Regions from separate parts of the Homo sapiens genome. Here region 2 is linked to region 1. A link means that fine-mapping ties the variant in region 1 to the expression of a gene that starts in the linked region. Tissue or cell type: adrenal gland. Region 1 holds a variant in brackets; the other region holds the start of a gene. All regions are shown on one strand. Distances are from middle to middle. Region 1 overlaps ROR2 (receptor tyrosine kinase like orphan receptor 2). Region 2 holds the start of ROR2 (receptor tyrosine kinase like orphan receptor 2).

Region 1 (2,805 bases):
AGCAACAGGAGGTCCCATTCACTGCTCATGAGAATGCAAAATGGTACGGCCACTGAGGAAGACAGTTTGATGGTTTCTTACAAAGCTAAACACACTCTTACCCTATGTTCTAGCAATCACACTCCTTGGTATAAGGAGATGAAAACTTATGTCCACACAAAAACCTGCACAAGGATATTTACAGCAGCTTCATTCATAATTGCCAAAACTTGGAAGCAGATGTCCTTCAGCAGGTAAGAGGGTACACAAATTGTGGTACATCTAGTGGATGAAATATTCAGCACTAAAAAGAAATGAGCTATCAAACCATGAAAAGAGATAGAGCAAACTTAAATGCCAATTGCTAAATGAAAGAATCCAATCTGAAAGAACTACATACTATATGATTCCAACTATAAGACATCTAGAAAAGGTAAAACTATGGAGTCATGTGATTGCCAGGGATTGGGGAGGAAGGGATGAATAAGTGGAGTACAGAAAATTTTTACGGCATTGAAAAATATCTGTATGATACTATCATGGTAGACACATATCATTTTACATTTGTTCAAACCCACAGAACATACAGCACCAAAAGTGAACCCTAAGGTAAACTATGGACTCTGGGTGATAATGATATATCAATATAGGTTCATCAACTGTAGAAAACACACCACTCTGGTAGGGGATGTTGGGCAGGTTACAGGGAATATGGGAATTCTCTGTTCCTTCATCTCTATTTTGTTGTGAACCTAAAATGTTCTAAAAAATAAATCTATTTAGGCCAGGCACGGTGGCTCACGCCTGTAATCCTAGCACTTTGGAGGCTGAGGCGGGCGGATCACTTGAGGTCAGGAGTTCAAGACCAGCCTGGCCAACATGGTGAAACCCCATCTCTACTAAAATACAAAATTTAGGCGGGCATGATGGCAGATGCCTGTAATCCCAGCTACTCGGGAGGCTGACACGGGAGAATTCGCTTGAACATGAAAGACGGCGGTTGCAGTGAGCCGAGATCGCGCCACTGCACTCCAGCCTGGGCGGCTGAGCGAGACTCTGTCTCAAAAAAGAAAAAAGAAATACATAAATCTATTTAAAAAAATGACTCTACTCTTAATTGGTAATTCAGGCATTTGGTGATACAGGGAAGCCAAGGTCCCTCCATGTCACCCGCGTGCCAGTACCTCCCACCAGACACCTGTGGCAGCTGAGACTGCTTGTGTATCAAGAAAACTTGAGCCCATGTCACAATCTTTCAAAAATATTCAAACAGCCTCCATCTTTGACAAATGCCCAAGGTTAATGTTGCAAAAAAGGATGAAATCCATAGAACACATTACTGGAAAAGTTTTCCAAAATCTGTCTTCCTTCCTCTAGAAGAGAAATTCACGCAGTGCATACAATATTGTGAAGATGAAAAAGCAGCATCACCCTAGACCATCTCTCCTTAGACTGCGTGTCCTTCCTTGCCAGTGCCGCTCCACTGGGTATATTTGTAGCCCTGACTCTGTCTTGGCTGAACATCAAAGATGCAA[T/C]CTTGGTTCCCCCGCTTCCCCACAATGCTGTCCTCATCCAGTTTATCTTCAGAAACACCACTTTAAAAACAACAGAATTAATTCTCCTCAGATCCCTATTTCTCCTCACAAGGTGATCAGATTCCAGGTTTTTCCTTCGGCTTCTGGAAAGATCTCACCATATCCGGATTTTGCGCAGCCAACAGAAGTGTGAATAATCACTTGACAGTTTCTTATACCTCAAAAGTGCCTGCTCACATCAGCATGTTTCTTACTCTCTCTGCTTCTGGTTCCCATTAGAGAAATTGCCTCACTGGACACCAAGAAATAAGAGACTTATCTGCCCCCTTCCCCTTAAAGTTTAAACTCATAAACTAGATGGGAGAAATGTTCACATGTATGTTGTAATCCCTTTTAAACTTACTTCTAAGGGCACTTTTTTTTTCATTTGGGCTTAGAACTGATTAAACAAAACAATGTTCTGTCCAAACCTGCATTTTTCTTATTACTTTCTAATCATTTTACCACCAACATAAAGGCCTGTTCTTTTCCAACACTGGGCTCTTTAATCATTCCTGACAGGCCTCTGCTTTCTGCTTGGCCAGGCCCCAGCAAACACCGTTGGGCTCCACCGCCCTCGGCTGCTCTCCCTAAGTCCTCTCTGCCCGGTAACACAGCTCATTTAAAGAGCGAGTGGGAGCAAAGGGAAGGAAGGGGAAGGCCCATGCTCCTCGTGAAAGCTCCTCTTCCGTGTTCGGTGCAATGCAGCACTGGCAGCTGGATGCACACGTAGACCCCGTAAGTGCATAGGAAGCACGGGTGGGTTGTGGAGCCCCACCCTTCCCCACACAGCACTGTGATCAGAATAACTGCTCCCAAATTAAGGGAAAGGCTGGGAGTTTTCGAGTCCCATTAAACTTGATAGTCAAGCTACTTATTAAAATTAGCAATTAAACTTATACAATTTAATTTTCAAAGTGAAATCAAACATGGTCTCTTGTTTTAGGCCAAAATAATCCCAAAGGGGAAGCAGGGAAGACATGCCTATCCCACTTGTACAGAGGAAAGAAGGTGATCCAGGTCTTCTGGCATGTTCTCCTCTAAGGCATTGCCAAAAGTTATGTGGTTAGTAAACGTTATAATAATAGTCTCATGGGGTTGGTGATAATGTCAATAGTTAGTACAACCTTCCATGGCTTTAGGAAAATTTTGTCATAAGAACAAAGTGATACTGGGTGATGCTCTGACCAAAGAACAGGATTTGGAAGTGGGTGGGGGGGTATTCCAGGTGGGGGGAACCACCTGGCCAAAG
Region 2 (2,805 bases), 54 kb after region 1:
CGATTCTCACCTTCCTGCAGGAGTGCAGGGATGGGGGATACTGAAGCCCATTTACTAGTAAGAAGTGTCTCACACATTCCGGGGGCTTCAGGCGAACCCCATAGGTCTCTGGCGCTCCTGGGCCTGAAGGCCCCGCCCGCCCTCCTCCACCCCCGCAGGGTGCCGAGAATCCGGCCCGAGGCGCGCGGGCGGGAGGTGCTCCCGGAGTCTGCACCGCCAGAGCTAACGCCGCCTCCTCCAGGCAACCTAGGCAGGTCCCAAGCTGCACTTCCGAACCTCCCCGCCGTTCCTCTGCGCCCCGGATCCAAGCAGCCGAAACCGCGCAGGGACTCGGGGGAAGTGGGGCCCCGGGAGGAAACCCACCTAGGAGCCGGGCCCCGCCCCTCCCGCCGCCAGCCTCCTACAGGTCCCGGGGGTCCCCCCGGCGCGGCCAGAAGGCGGCCGCGCCCCAGCCGCTCAGGGACCCGCGATCCCAGTCACAAACCATTTCAATCCAGATCACACACCACTTCGGCCACCCCAGAGCGGTGGGGGAGAGGAGGTTTCAGGGACCAACAAAAGGGATGCCAAAGAGCCCGTTTCCATCAAGCGGCCCGCGGGCTGGGAAAGTCAGGACCCGGGAGCCGCCGGCGCCCCCACCCCCGCCGCAAGAGCCGCTTCTCCGGGGCCACGTCCACCCCAGGATTCTGCCAGGCATCAGGCCGCCCTGGGGGTGGGGGGACGCTCCGAGACAGACGGGGGACACTCGGGGCCGTGTGCCCTTGAAGGAGGAAGACCTCGGGGAGGAAGCCCGGGTCCTGGGACCCTCGGGGCACATCTGCGGACTCGGGTCCCGGGCCCAGGGCGGGTACTCACATTCACACTCGCACTCCCACTCGCGACCCTCGGGAAGCGCCACCGAGAGGCTCCCAGCCGCCGCCGCCCGCCCCCAGACTCTGGAAACACTTAGGCGTCCCCAGAGCGCGGCTTATTGTAACCAGCCCGAGGGGGTCCGGGGTGCGGGCCGGGAGCGGCGTCGGGCGAGATGCGAATGGCCCTGCCTGGCGCCCCTCGTTCAGGAGCATGGGCGCCGGCGCAGCGGCCGGGAGCATAGTGGCGGCGGAAGGGCTGGCCAAGCGAGCCGTGAGCTACCGTCTGCGCACAAGCCGGAACGCCAGATCCTACCTGAAGTCCGGGACACTGAGAGCAGAAGCGCGGCGGCCGCCCAGACGGCCGGGATGCACAGCAGCGGCCGCCGCGGGAGCGCCGAGCCCCGGGCCATGCCGCAGGCAGTGGGGGCCGGGAAGCCCTCAGAGCTTCGGGCCGGGGCGCGGGGTCGGGCGCCACCACCCCTTTCTACGATGCGTCCGCTCCTCCTTCTCCCTGGCGCTTCGCAAACGGGTCCACTTCGAGGACCTCGTCGTCGTCCTCTTCTCCGGCCCGGATGCGCCGCTCGGCTCCGGCCACGGCAAGGGCTGGCTGGGGAGGTTCCTTGGCGCGGGCTGGGGCGTCCCGCCGGCCGCCAGGACGAGCGCGGGGGGCGGACCGCGGGCGAGCGCGCAGGAGGCAGGGTCCCCGCTCGCCCGCCCCGATGGGCAGAGCGAGGCTTGCGCCGGCGCCCCCTGCCGGGGGAACGCGCGGGCGGCGGGCGGGACCCAAGGAGCTGGGGCTGCAGCTGGGGCCCCGGACCTGCCTCCTGCGCCCGCCCTCGGGCCTGCGCCTCGGAACGCTTGAACACAAAGGTGGCGCCTTGGGGGCGTCAGCCGGAGTTCGGCGGGTCTGCCCACGCAGGAGAGGCGCCCAGAGCGGGTGCCCCCGACTTTCGGGGGCGACACACCCGGGGATCTAGGTCACAAATCAGTAACTCCAGGCTGCACTGCGCACCGGGACAAATCTGAGAGCCACCCAGCCCCAGACACCAGCGGTGAGGCAGGAAGAGGAGAAGCGAAAGTTGCAAAAGGAAATGTTCAGGAAAACAAACAGGCCGCCTTGGCACCGGCGCCCTCCCAGGTCGGTGGGGACAAGCGCGTCCCCCGAAATGCTCAAAACTGCCAGGGGTCGAGCTGCGTGGAGGGAGCCCTCGGGAGCGCGATGCTATCCGAAGCCACCGCGGCTTTTGGTTTACTGTTAAAAGCAAATTGTATAATTTTACCCATTAAAGGCAGAACACTATTTGTTCTCTGCAGAGGCCCAGAATGTGCAGAATTTGCTTCACTTATTAGAGACATTTTGAACGGAATTCAAATAGCATGTTTTCTTGCTTATTCTTGGTTTTGCTCAGCACATGCAAATGTCTTTGTTTTTCCTCTTAGAGGAAGGAATTGGATTCTCCAGCATCTCAGTTGCTTGTTCCATGAGATTGATCTTTTAACTGATTATCCAGCAGTTTGTTTGGTGTTTTTGCTGGAGTACCAAGCTCTGTTAATTGGAGGGCATTAGGGAGAGCCCTGGCCTTGGGTGCCAGACGTGAGGCCTCAGACGTGGCCAGAAATAAAAACTCTCTTGCTATGGTCTGCGGACAAAATGACTAAGCCAGCTCTAGCTTGTTACCTCTGTTAAAAGTATTTAGGCGTCCGGCTATCTCTACCCAATTTGTGTAGGGAAATATCTCACGCAGTTCTCATTCCCAGGAGCTGCTGTAAATCCAGTAGGAGAATGGGAGAAGATCCTAGCCCCTCCTCAACTGGATGGCAAAATTATTACCAAACTTCTTAGACGGGCTCAGGCTGTTCCTCTGCCCAGGCTGGTGCGGGTCTGAACGGGGGGGCTGCTCTCCCCAGTGGTTAGAGGACTGCCAGGGGTTTATCTTTGGGGTTTTCCTCCCTT

What was found.
Region 2: ROR2 starts here. The variant in region 1 is fine-mapped to the expression of ROR2 in adrenal gland (GTEx, PIP above 0.99).

The regions. Positions count from the first base shown.
Region 1 is chr9:91,894,802-91,897,606 of GRCh38, forward strand. The region is part of intron 1 of ROR2 (receptor tyrosine kinase like orphan receptor 2); the gene reads right to left. Among named protein-coding and RNA genes, the nearest start is that of ROR2, 54 kb to the right of the region's middle. RefSeq lists an enhancer at 1-305. The variant T/C (reference allele first, on the strand shown) is at 1,515.
Region 2 is chr9:91,948,703-91,951,507 of GRCh38, forward strand. It overlaps ROR2 (receptor tyrosine kinase like orphan receptor 2), which reads right to left and starts at 1,526. Exons shown (of 9, transcript NM_004560.4): 1 at 1,165-1,526. The coding sequence starts at 1,261. RefSeq lists enhancers at 317-818, 819-1,318 and silencers at 1,512-1,691, 1,805-2,099.